2 linked regions of the Homo sapiens genome follow. The main gene of each other region encodes a partner of the protein of the gene in region 2 in a complex. Each region holds a gene or a part of one and is shown on either strand. Other genes may lie near its edges. A codon is read from its position in the direction of its gene.

Region 1 (7,026 bases), on a different chromosome or scaffold from region 2:
GGGACTACCCTCAGAGTGTCAGCGAGCACTGATAGGGCCAGGAAGGCATATCTTAACCCTTTGTCTTAGATGCTTGGGGCAAGTTGCTTAACTGCCCTGTGCCTCTGTTTCCTCATTCGTAAGGGGGATGGTAGCCCTTCCCAAGACAGCTGTTGAGGGCAGTCTTGGGGCAGTTGGCAAAGTGCCCTCAGCACAGAGTAAGCGCTCAGGGCCAGGGGTTGGTGTCATGATCGGGGACTCGCCCTGGGACAGCCCTTCAGCAGGGCCAGACCACGTGGCTGTCCAGAGCCCCCATGGACCAGCATGGCTTGCAGCCTGCTCCTGGACTGTCTACTGCTCACAGCTGGACCAGGCCCTTGGCCCCACATGCTCTAGGAGGGCAAACGCCCTGTGGTGTTTGTCTAAGGTCTAGTGTCATCCGTGCGGAAAAAGATTTCCAGACACCAGGCAGCAAGCTGGGCCCCCGCCAGCTGTGCTGAGCACTGCACCTGTTTTTGCTGAAGGGTTCTCTTGTGAGGGCACCAGGCAGGACCGAGCAAGCCTCATGGGAATCATGGGAGCCGCTGAGCTCTCCACATGGGAGAGCTGGCCGCCTCTGCAAGAATGACTGTCCAGCACTGAGGGTCAGCAGAAGTGTCTGGGCAGCTGCAAATGGGACTCATGCAGAGGCAGCATGGTGCAGGGTAAGGAGTTGAGTCACATCCACTCTAGACTTCACTTGGCAGGCCACTCACCTTGGTGACGCTGTCTGTCGTCTGTGAAGTGAGAAGAGTGGTGTTCATCATGATAGGTAGTGCCTCCCTGGGCTCTTGACACCAGAGTGCTGTTCTTTTTTTCTTCTCCTTTTTTTTTTTTGAGATGGAATCTCGCTCTGTTGCCCAGGCTGGAGTGCAGTGGCGCGATCTCGGCTCACTGCAAGCTCCACCTCCTGGGTTCACGCCATTCTCCTGCTTCAGCCTCCCGAGTAGCTGGGACTACAGGCGCCCACCACCATGCCTGGCTAATTTTTTGTATTTTTAGTAGAGGCGGGTTTCACCATGTTAGCCAGGATGGTCTTGATCTCCTGACCTTGCGATCCGCCCTCCTCCACCTCCTAAAGTGCTGGGATTACAGGCGTGAGCCACCATGCCTGGCCTTTTTTTTTTTTTTTGAGGTGGAGTCTCACTCTGTCGCCCAGGCTGGAGTACGGTGGCGCAGTCTTGGCTCATTGCAACTTCTGCCTTCCAGGTTCAGGTGATTCTCCTGCCTCAGACTCCGGAGTAGCTGGAATTAAAGGCATGCACCACCATGCCTGGCTAATTTTTGTATTTTTAGTAGAGATGGGGTTTCACCACGTTGGTCAGGCTGGTTTCAAACTCCTGACCTCAAGTGATTCGTTTGCCTTGGCCTCCCAAAGTGCTGGGGATTACAGGCATGAGCCACCGCGCCGGGCCAGCCAAGGTGCTGTTATATGTGCTCTTTAGCCTCGGAGACTGTCATTTCCCCTCACTGCACTGCAGAGCGAGGGCACACCGGGTGAGGTTAGGGCAGGCCCCAGTGGTGTTGCCTCATTGAGGCACCTCCCCCATCCATGTGAGGCAGGAGAGGCAAGCATTACCATCAACTCTAAAAGCCAGGTAAGAACCTGAGTCAACAAAGGTGAGGTCATGGGCCCAGGCCACATTCTCCTAAGGAGTGGAGCCGAGTCTTTTTATGGCAGTCTGACCCAGAGACAGCTCTCGCTGTTTCCCACCCTTGGCTGTCTTCCCAGGGCTATATGTGGAGTATCAGTGGTGGCACTGGCAGGGAGTGGCGCCCGGTGAAAAGGAGTGTTAAGAGGAAGCACGTGCCAGGTGTGGTGGCTCACGCCTGTAATCCCAGCACTTCGGGAGGCTGAGGCGGGAGGATTGCTTGAGCCCAGGAGTTTGATACCAGCCTGGGCAACATGGCGAGACCCCCATCTCTAAAAAATTAAAAAATTAGCCAGGCGTGGTGGTGCACACCTGTAGTCCCAGCTACTCAGGAAGCTGAGTGGGAGGATTGCTTGAGCCCAGAGGTTCAAGACTGCAGTGAGCTATGATTCCACCACCGAACTCCAGTTTGGGTGACAGAGTAAGATCCTGTCTCTGAGACCAACAAGAAAAGAGGTAGCATGTGTCAAGCAAGAGCAGCAGTTCCCACTGGACCTGGAGTTTCCTGGTGCAAATCAGCCTGTGAGTCTGTATTTTCTTTTTTCTTCAAGACGGGGTCTTACTCTGTCACCCAGGTTGAAGTGCAGTGGCATGATCTCGGCTCACTGCAACCTCTGCCTCTTAGGATCAAGTGATCCTCCCACCTCAGCCCCCTGAATAGCTGGGACCACAGGTGCACGCCACCACACCTGGCTAATTTTTTTTTTGATTTTTGGTAGAGACGGGGTTTCGCTGTGTTGCCCAGGCTGGTCTCAAACTCCTGAGCTCAAGCAGTCCACCTGCCTCACCCTTCCAAAGTGCTGGGATTACAGGCACGAGCCACTGAGCCTGACAAGTTTGTACTTTTAGCACGTTCCCCTGCCCCTGCCCAGTCCTTCTCACATGGGTGGACCTAGTACCACATTCTGAGAAAGCCTGATTCCAAGGTCCTGTATCAGTCCCTTGGACCTTCTTTGACCCTCTACAAGACCTTTCTTTCCCTCCTTAACCAGAGCAACTCCTGTTTCTATCTGTTACATATGCAGCACAGCCACATCTTGTGTGGATTTGTATTATGTCCATTCAAAAGCATGTGTCAGAAAATACCAGTAAACCTGTATTAAAGTTGGATGTTGAAGTAGTGCTAACCACCCTCAACTCTAACTAAAATATCAACAAGTGGGCTGGGCGTGGTGGCTCACACCTGTAATTGCAGCACTTTGGGAGGCTGAGGTGGGTGGATCACCTGAGGTCGGGAGTTTGAGACCAGCCTGACCAACATGGAGAAACCCCGTCTCTCCTGAAAATGCAAAAATTAGCTGGATGTGGTGGCACATGCCTGTAATCCCAGCTACTCAGGAGGCTGAGGCAGGAGAATCGCTTGAACCCAGGAGGCAGAGGTTGCAGTGAGCCAAGATTGCGCCATTGCATTCTGGGCAACAAGAGCAAAACTCCGTCTCAAAAAAAAAAAAAGAAAGAAAATTAGGTAGATCTAGTGGTGCACACCTGGAATCCCAGCTATCTGGGAGGCTGAGGCATAAGAATTGCTTGAACCTGGAAGGTGGAGGTTGCAGTGAGCTCAGATTGCGCCACTGCACTCCAGCCTGGGTGGCCAAGCCAGACTCTGTCTCAAAAAAAAAAAAAAAAAAAAAAAAAGGTAACTGCTGTGTGTAATGTGATCTCCATTAAATTTGTATCTAAAGAGCGGGTTCTGCGGTAAAGAAAGGATTTGGAAAGCACTGTACTAGAGAGCTCCCTCTGAATAATGTTCCCGGTCTGAGTGCTTGCAGCATTGATCCACAGCGCTGCCCCTAAAGTGTTGGTGTGAAGGTTGTCCCACTCTTCAGGCGGGGCAAAGAGCTTGTCTGAGGGCAATCACAAACCCCCTTCTGTCTTCTAACTTCGGAGGAAGGGCCCCCTTAACCTGGAGCGGTTCCCTTTGATGGGGAGGTGGGTGTTCACCAGAGGTTTTGTTTGAAGAAAAGGTTTTACTGCCATACATGGGTTAGAGTACTTCTGTAGTCCAGAAGTTGTAAATTAGTGGTCTATGCTGTTATTTGGTTCATAATGATGATTTTTTTTTTTTTTCGAGACAGGGTCTTGCTTTGTAGCCCAGATTGGAGTGCAGTGGCACGATCTCAGCTGCCTGCAGCCTTGAACTTCTGGGCTGAAGCAATCCTCTGCCTCAGCCTCCCAAGTAGCTGGAACCACAGGCACACATCACCATGCCTGGCTAATGTTTTGATTTTTTTTTTTTTTTGTAGAAGCGAGGCCTCACCATGTTGCTCAGGCTGGTCTCCAACTCCTGGGCTCAAGCGATCCTCCAACGTCAGCCTCTCAAAGTGCTGGGATTACAGGCATGAACCACCATGCCTGGCCATAGTAATGATTTATGGTTAGAATATTTCTTAAAGGTAATTGAATTAGTTGAAAGCACTTAAATACCAGACAATATCTCACTAAGAGAAAGAAAGAAAAAGGCTAGATTTCTGCTTTCTTTTGAAAAATCAGATTGGCCTTGCTGGGCAGAGTCAGTCAGTCTGAACATCAGTCTTCCTCTTAAAACAAGCCTGAGCTTTCCTGTCTGCCTGCCAGCATGCTGCAGGTCACCCACAGGGCTGAACTGTCCCCCTGTACTGCCCACTCGGCTAACCATTGCCTCCTCCCCTCCTAGGTGTGCTGATGTATCGGGACTACCCCCTGGAACTATTCATGGCCCAGTGCTATGGCAACATCAGTGACTTGGGCAAGGGGCGCCAGATGCCTGTCCACTACGGCTGCAAGGAACGCCACTTCGTCACTATCTCCTCTCCACTGGCCACGCAGATCCCTCAGGGTGAGGATGCATGCCCTGTACCTTGCACATGTGCAGACCAATGTCACACCCCTGTCCAGGCCTCAGCTCTTTTGCCTGCCTTCTGGGTGGAATTCTGGGTTGGTGACACCACTAGAGCCCTGGTCTGTGCTCCAGACTTCTTCTTCTTATTTTTTTCTTTTTTGAGACGGAGTCTTGCACTGTTGCCCAGGCTAGAGTGCAGTGGTGCTATCGCAGCTCACTGCAGCCTCCTTCTCCCAGCTTCAAGCAATTCTCCTGCCTCAGCCTCCCGATTAGCTGAGACTACAGGTGTGCACCACCACGCCCAGCTAATTTTTGTATTTTTAATAGAGACAGGGTTTCACCGTGTTGGCCAGGCTGGTCTCAAACTCCCGGCCTCAGGTGATCCACCCGCCTCAGCCTCTCAAAGTGCTGGGATTACAGGCGTTTAAGCCATTGTGCCCAGCCCACTTTTTTTTTTTTTTTTTTTTTTTTTTTTTTTTTGGTCTGAGACGGGGTTTCACTCTCGTCAGCCAGGTTGGAGTGCAATGGTGCAATCTCGGCTCACTGTAACCTCCACCTCCCAGGCTCAAGTGATTCTCCTGCCTTAGCCTCCTGAGTAGCTGGGATTATGGGCATATGCCATTGTGCTTGGCTAAATTTTTGTATTTTTTGTAGAGATAAGGTTTCACCATTTTGGCCAGGCTGGTCTTGAACCTGAGTTCAAGTGATCTGCCCACCTTGGCCTCTCAAAGTGCTGGGATTACAGATGTGAGCCACTGCACCTGGCCTGTGTTCCAGACTTTGAATGCACCTCTTGTCTGGGACCCTTCAGAAGAGGGCTCTGTTGCTGTCCCCACCCCATTCAGGGGCCTGAAGCCTGTGTGACCACACTCTGGATTTCCCAACCACATGCCTACTGCATTTGTCTGCTCACAAACATAGCCAACGTGTGCACCAGGTTCCACTGTGCCAATGCTTCACGTTCATCATCTAATAAGGACCCTCATTGTGGCCATGGGGACAGAGGTTATTATTTGCTCTTGTTCCTGTTTTCAAGAGCAGGATGCCCGTGTTTTGTGTGTGTGTGAGAGACAGCAAGTGAATGGGAAAAAAAAAAGTGCAGGAGCCTGGCCAACATGGCAAAGCCCTGTCCCTACTAAACATACAAAAATTAGCTTGGCATGGTGGTGCACACCTGTAATCCTAGCTACTCAGGAGGCTGAAGCAGGAGGATTGCTTGAACCTGGGAGGCAGAGTTTGCAGTGAGCTGAGATCGTGCCATTGCACTCTAGCCAAAGTGAGATCCTGTCTCAAAAAAAAAAAAAAGGAAATTGAAGTCAAAGAGGGAAGTCACTCGCTAACGGTCATGTGGCACAGAGGGAGAGGAGCAGGGACTCAAGTCATTGACTGTGTACCTCCAGAGCCTGGGTTCTTGGCCCTGACCTTTGTCTGCCTCAGTCCTCAGAGTCAAGTAAGCTTCCCCAAAGCTTACCGTAGGTGCCCTGAAGTCCCTTCCCTTATAAGAGCTTTTTTGGGAAGCAAACCCACTGGGTGCCAGGCCTGCACCCTCATAGTGTGGAGAACAAGGAATCGGAGCCCCTTCCTGTCCTCCGGGGCCTGTAGCCTGATCTAGGGTTGGTCTGGGCCCTGGCTTCTTTGCCCTAGGGCAGCTGAGATGCATGAGTTTGTGTCTCTCCAGGCCTCAGCACTGTGCCCAGCACAGCAGGAGGCTCCACACCCCTTAGCTCATAGTGTTCTTTTGTTGAGGAACAAGAAGCAGTTTGAGCCTCTTAGGTGGGAGGTGGGCAGGGAAGCTTTCTCAGAGGAGGGGGCATTTAGGGGGCATTTGAGCTAAAGGTAATAGGGTTTCCACAAGGCTGGGGCGTGGCCCTAACCTTCCCTCTGGGTCCCTGCTAAGTCACTTCAAATACACGAAGTTCCTGCCATGTGCCGGTGCCACTCCAAGTGCAGGGAACAAAAGCAACGCAAACCTCAGCCCTCCTGGTGCTGCCATTGTGGTGGGGGAGACGGACAGTAACAGAGATGGAGAGGGAACTCCTGGAGTATATGAGGGTGGGGGTCCTGTAGGGAGCAGCCAAGCCAGCCGGGTGTGGTGCACTGTAGGGGTGGCTGGGGTCCGTCACTGGAGTGACACTGAAGTATGGACCAGAGGATGTGAGGGGGGAGCTGTGTGGTGTCTTGAGGCAGGTGTGAGCCTGGCGTGTTTGAGGAGCTGGGAGGAGCCCAGAGGGGCAGGTGTGGAGTGAGCAGGTGTGGAGTGAGCGGGTGTAGGGTGAGCAGGTGTGGGGTGGTTGGAGGTAAAGTCCAGGAGGTGGTGGGTGGGGGTGCAGATGGTGCAGGTTGGGTGGGGCCTCAAGGCCTTTGCCTGTTGCAGGGATGTCGACTTTTACTCAAAGTGGGACAGGAGCCGTGGGTGGGGAGGAGTCTGCTCTTCCTTGGCCTGGCTCACCTCTTCATGGAATCCGCGGGCTGCCCTGTGGATAAGGGATTGGGCAGTGTGTGAAGGGCTAGTAAGGAGGCTGCTCAGTAACTTGGGCT
Region 2 (6,126 bases):
GAAAATTCAGGGCACATGGTTGCTATGGTTATGGCGTCATGTATTTATAATGGAGAGATACTTTGTCTTCATTAATCTACAAACTTGCCAGTGGGATTCGGTATTTTTTTTCTGTGTGTGTGTGTGTGTTTGTGTGTGTGTGTACATACGTACGTACGTACATGTATACAGCTTCTGCATGAAAACACTGAGGCTGAACAAGGTGTTCTGTTTTGGTGGTAGTGCAGAGAAACATACTCACACATAAATTATTTATATGTGAACCAATTCAGTGAGAAGTAAGTACAGCTGCTTAATTGACCTAAGGGTCTTATTTCCAACTGCTTAAAAATAAGTGTAAAGTGAAGTTCATGGAAGAAATAACTTAAGGCTCTTTAATATACTTTTGTTGGTGAAGAGAATTTCAAGCTGTTTCAGTCAGTTAGCATATATTCTTAAAAAGACTGATATCCTATTCGTAGTCTTCTCTTATATATCCTTGAATTATCTTCCATGATTTTTATATTTTATATACTTATAATAGCGTATTATAACAACTTAATGCTACATAATTTACAGTAATCGTTTCCAAATTAAGGAAGCCCTATGTGTAAAATCACAAATTTATGTAACATAACACAGGAACTTTTATTCATATAAGAAAATCATTATTCACTTTACTGTTTTCCTTTATTTCAGCATCATTTATTACAAAATTAATACTGTTTTCGAAAAACCAAAACAATATATTATAAAGCACAACGTGGAGTCTTCTCTCACCTCCTTGTCATTCCCAGCCTCAAAGGGTAACCACTGTTTACAGTTCAAGTGTGTCTTCACAGCAGATGTTTTTCTATGCTCGTGCAGACATATAGATGTATTCCTGGAAAGAGTGATGCTTGCATTCTTGAGGAGTTAGGAGCATTGCTATTTGAAAAAATAAAAATCCAGTTTGATGATGTTAGTCATTATGCTGAAAGGAGTGATTTTAACAAATACCAACAGAACTTCTTGTGGTAGGCCAGCTTTCCAAGTTACTGGTTCAAGAGAACAGTCATTTTATAACAGGTATAAAATCAAAGACGTTTAGTAAAATATTTTGCCCTTAATTCTCCATGGATAGCTTGTTTATGAAGAGTTCAGTATTCAGGGAAGATGGAAAAACAGCCCAGTGTCAGCTAAAGTAATAAAACCGACTTAATCCCAAATTGACAATTTAAAGCCCTTTAAAATTACTTGTTGCAAACAAGAAATAATCCACCCAGTCTGTCATCTCTTTTCAGCTTATTAGTAGTGGAATCTCTTAGGTGGCTCTTTAAACCGTGTGTATTAAAAGTCCTAAAGTTGTTCGTGGAGATTTCCAGTTGCTAGGGAATACCAACACTTATTTGGTGTTTGATATTGTAAATCATGATAGTTATTGGGGCCAAAGGGAGGTCTGTAAATGTCCAGTAGGTTCTCTTTGGAGCTAATTTGTGCTGTTTGCATTTTCTTTCTGCCCCAATACACTTGTCACTGGAAGAAATCACACAGGGGGTAGGGATAAAGCATGAGGTATCATGATTCCTTCATGTAAAAATTTTGCTCAAATTAAAATGTGAACATAGTATAATATGTAAAAAAAACTGGACCTCCTTAAATCCTTTATAAAGCAAGGCAATGTGTAAACACATGAATAAATATGAAGGTTTTATTTTAAGTAATAGCTGTGAATGTTAAAAGTAATATTATTTTCCTTAGAATAGTTTAATCACATATCCCTTTTAAATTTTTTAAGCCTTTAAACGTTTTATTTTCAGTCTGGGCTTGGGGACTCACACCTGTAATCCTAGCAGTTTGGGAGGCTGAGGCTAGGGGATCACTTGAGCCCAGGAGTTTGAGACCAGCCTGGGCAACATAAGAAGACCTCATTTCTGAAAAAAAAAAAAAAAAAAAAAAAGAAAGGGAAGAAAGGGGAAGGAAGGGAAGGAAAGGGAAGAAAAAAACGAAAAGAAAAGGAACAAAGGAAGGCGTCGGTGATGTGCACAAGTGGTCACAGCTACTTGGTAGTCTGAGGTGGGATTGCTTGAGTCTGGAAGATCGAGGTTGCAGTGAGCCGTGTTTGCACCACTGCACTTCAGCCTGGGCGAGAGAGTGAGACCCTATTTCAAAATAAATTCAAATTTGAATATTTTACTTGAGTAACATTTTTTTTCTCCTGAAAATAATTTTCTACAGTGTTCTACTGTGGTTGAGGTTTTCATGTTTAAATCAGATCTCTAGCCTCATGGGACTCATAGTCTCTCATGGAAGACAGATAATTGGGCAACTACAATGGATTATGCCGAGTTCGGTGCTTTGGGAGCTCAGAGCACAAGCCCCTTCCTCATCTGCCCTGTAGGGCTGGGGAGGTGCTGTCAAGGAAGGCTTCCCAGCGGGAGTGATTCCTCAGGTAATAACCTGAGATTTGTACACACATCAGTCAGGCAAAGAGCTGTGGACTTGGGGTGTGAGTGGCCAGAGACCCAGCATTATCTGCAAAAGCTAGACTATGAGAGAGATGAGAACACAGTTAAGTAACTGATAGAAGTTCAGTCTGGCTGGGGCATGGAGGAATTACAAACATTTATTATGAAAGTAATACATGTGCATTGTATAAAATGTGAGAAAAACAGAAAATGAGAAGGTATATATTATTGCCAGTTTCATGCTGCAGAGTTAACTACTGTGAACATTTGTTGCATTTTTATAATTCTTTCCATTTATATTCGTAGAACAGCGTATTTGATATTATCCCAGTTTGGCTTAGACAATAGATATATATACAGGTATAAAATGCATATGCATACATGAAAACACATAATAAAACTGGGATCATGCGAACATGCTGTTACCTGCTTTTTTCATATTACAGTATACTTAAATATTTTTAATGTCCTTAGATGCAATTGTATTTTTAGTAAGTGAAATATTTTAAGTTGCACTATTTCATTTCTGTGAGTAAAAAAAATTCTTGAAGTTAAGCATCCTGACTCTGTCTGCAGGAGGAATGTTTCTTGAACCTAGAGGCTCCTATATCAAGAGTATGTGGTTATGACACACCATTTCCTCACATTTTTGAACCATTCTACATCCCAGACAAATGGAAGTGTTATGATGCCCTTCGAAAAATGATCAACTATTGACCATATAGGTAGGTATGCATCTTGAGAAAGCTACTATGTGCCCCTGACATTAACGTACTGTTAACCAAGACACAGCAATCATCAGTGTTTTGATGGTAACAAACTTTGATGGTAAAGTTGGTAAAAGGCAACTTTCAGAAGAAAATAATGTGCTTTAGAAAAAAAATTCAAATTTATAGTAGTATATTTACATTTTTGTTGTTGTTGTTGTTCTGAGATGGAGTCTCACTCTGTCGCCCAGGCTAGACTGCAGTGGTGCAATCTCAGCTCACTGCAACCTCCCCCCTACCCCTGAGTTCAAGCGATTCTCCTGCCTCAGCCTGCTGAGTAGTTGGGATTACAGGCGCCCACCACCATGCCCAGCTAATTTTTGTGTTTTTATTGGAGGTGGGGTGTCACTATGTTGGCTCAGCTGATTTCAAATTCCTGACCTCAAGTGATCCACCTGCCTTAGCCTCCCAAAGTGCTGGGATTACAGGCATGAGCCACTGCACCTGGCTATATTTACATTTAATAGAAACATATCTAGCATATGTATATGTGATTTTTTTTTTTTTTTTGAGACCGAGTCTCACTCTGTCACCAGGCTGGAGTGCAGTGGTGCGATCTTGGCTCATGGCAACCTCTGCCTCCCAGGTTCAAGCGATTGTCCTGCCTCAGTCTCCTGAGTAGCTGGGACTACAGGTGTGCACCAACATGCCCAGCTAATTTTTTATATTTTTAGTAGAGACGGGGTTTCACCATGTTGGCCAGGATGGTCTCGATCTCTTGACCTTGTGTTCCACCCGCCTTGGCCTCCCAAAGTGCTGGAATTACAGGCATGAGCCACCGCGCCTGGCCTGTATATGTGATTTCTAAAAAATAGATGCATGCATATGTTAACATTGAATAGTCAATCACTAGATGAAGATGCTCTCTACCATGGTTTAGATTGCAAGTGTACTTTATACCATTGTTTCAACTTCAACCTTTATTTTTGTATATATTTTTTCAGCTACTTAAACTGTTCATGAATAGGCGTACTTTCTGTATTTAAAAATGGCCCCTCAAGCACCGTTAATTTACATTCCAGTTATTTACATGATAATTCATGACATTCTGAAACTTGCCTGTATATTATCTGAAAAATGGATTTCTTGAGCAAAAGATCTGTTTATTGTATGTAAGGAAAAATTTTACCTGAAAACAAACAAACAAACCCTAAAACTCAGCACCACTACCATTTCCAGAAGCTTTTTTAACAAGTGAATATTTTTTACATAATGGATAATAAATGGTATTTATTCATCATGATTTTCTAAGTAATGCTTATCAGCCCCTTCAGTGGTGTTATTCTAACAAAATGAATACATTACAAATTATTAAGTTAGCTTTTCAGAGTTTTAATATAGAAGTTACTAGCACTGACACACTGATTTTGAAATGTTTCAAAATGAGTAGATATGATTAGATCCTTTACCTTTTAATATCTAGTTTTTCCAAAAATGATAGTAATATCTTTTGAAGAACTATGCTTTTTCAAAAGCAAAATCAACTCTGTATAATAGCACATTCTCTACTTTTTAAAGATCAGAAATGCTAGAATTCTTGACTTTTGTGTATGGGTAGTAAATCTAGCTCACTGAAAATCAGAGTGAAACGCCTTTACATTTGTGCGGATAGAGAAGTTAACTCTCCCTCATATGTCACTGTGCTACCATAATCCCTACATTTTCTGTCTGTTCTAGTCTAAGAATATTGTTATAGATGGAAGTTAGGACCATTAGCCCACAGATGCATGTATTCTCTCAGACATACCGGTGTAGATGCTATATTTCTGATGTCTTCTTAATGTCTGTGAAAGCAACTGGCATCTACAATAAATCACACTTAGAGCTGGTTAGAGGACTCCTTCACTTTTGTTGTCCATGTGGTTCCCTTCCGTGGACCAGCCGTAATAAAGAGCCAAGGTAGTGATGGTGGCCACGTGCCTCGTTGCTATTTTTAAAGTAATATTCAGATGTGGTTTTAAATTTAGATTATGTATTCCTTTTGAAACATAAGAAAAACATTTAAACCTATGCTGAAAATACGATAAAAGAAAAACAACTCCAATATGCTAAAAGTTAAATATGGTATTTAAGAAAATAGTCATGTATGCAATTGAGAAAGTCTATAATTTATTTTACAGAAAAGCTGGAAGATTATGACTAGATATGGAAATATTTTTTCTGAATTTTTTTTTATATTTCCTCCGACTTACCTCTTTTTGAAAAGAGAGTTTTTATTAAGTGAACCATCACGATATTGGCTGAAAAGTTCTACATTCTATTATTGTATTGTAACACACATGTATTGATGATTTTCATTAAGAGTTTCAGATTAACTTTGAAAAATATTCCACATGGTAATCTTATAAATTCTGTTTAATTACATCTGTAAATATTATGTGTGTGATAGTATTCAATAAAGTAAAATCAAATTGTCTTTGGGTTGTATGTGTTCTTTTTTTTTCCTTTAGTAAAAAGTTTTTGTTTCAGAGTAATAGCTTGTGAATTGGTTAATTAAATCTGAATTAAAGTACAGTATTCACTATAGAAATGGTGACTTCTCAACTTTATTGTATTTGGTTCAGTTCTTTATGACCAGGATGGTTATATGTTGACAGAACTTCTAGAATGTTTCCCCTCATTCTTCCCTCTTGCCTGAACAAGGTGTCGTAATGAATGTACTCACCTCCCCAGTGTGTGGTGGGTGGTGAGGCAGAATTTTTCCTACTGCCTCTCTTCCGTGAGATGGACAGCCTAAGCCTGTCCATTACAAAACTGCCAAGTTTTAGCTGTAGCTGTAGTGTTTGTCGTGATGTTGCAAAGCAATTTTTGCCCATGTTCTTTATATTATTACTTGGATAAAAAGAAAAAACAACAGTAGCAACAACAGATGACTCTGACAGGAGGAAACCTCCTTATTGGGGACATTGTCCAGTCCTCTTGTTTCTTACTCT

Evidence for each region. Proteins that work in one complex are often made in the same cells at the same time.
Region 1: the proteins of BCKDHB (region 2) and BCKDHA are in contact, whole or in part, in a crystal structure (PDB 1V16), measured with the Homo sapiens proteins. Residues at the interface, in NP_000047.1 of Homo sapiens: Pro89, Thr90, Val92, Asp117, Arg118, Phe120, Asn121, Thr122, Pro123, Cys125, Gln127, Gly128, Ile129, Gly131, Phe132, Ile134, Gly135, Ile136, Val138, Thr139, Asp158, Gln159, Asn162, Glu163, Ala165, Tyr167, Arg168, Tyr169, Arg170, Ser171; in NP_000700.1 of Homo sapiens: Phe155, Leu185 (codon at 4,392), Gly186 (codon at 4,395), Lys187 (codon at 4,398), Arg189 (codon at 4,404), Gln190 (codon at 4,407), Gly196 (codon at 4,425), Cys197 (codon at 4,428), Lys198 (codon at 4,431), Phe202 (codon at 4,443), Val203 (codon at 4,446), Thr204 (codon at 4,449), Ser206 (codon at 4,455), Pro208 (codon at 4,461), Thr211 (codon at 4,470), Pro214 (codon at 4,479), Gln215 (codon at 4,482), Val217, Gly218, Ala219, Tyr221, Ala222, Arg225, Gly244, Asp245, Ala248, Asn251, Phe252, Thr255, Leu256.

What each region holds. Positions count from the first base shown.
Region 1 is NC_000019.10:41,414,812-41,421,837, forward strand, and holds part of BCKDHA (2-oxoisovalerate dehydrogenase subunit alpha, mitochondrial isoform 1 precursor), read left to right. Parts: intron 1-4,323; coding exon 4,324-4,485; intron 4,486-7,026. UniProt on the Homo sapiens protein: Together with BCKDHB forms the heterotetrameric E1 subunit of the mitochondrial branched-chain alpha-ketoacid dehydrogenase (BCKD) complex.
Region 2 is NC_000006.12:80,340,662-80,346,787, forward strand, and holds the end of BCKDHB (2-oxoisovalerate dehydrogenase subunit beta, mitochondrial isoform 1 precursor), read left to right. Parts: exon of another isoform or gene 1-1,979; intron 1,980-3,002; coding exon 3,003-3,143; 3' UTR 3,144-5,609; downstream 5,610-6,126. UniProt on the Homo sapiens protein: Together with BCKDHA forms the heterotetrameric E1 subunit of the mitochondrial branched-chain alpha-ketoacid dehydrogenase (BCKD) complex.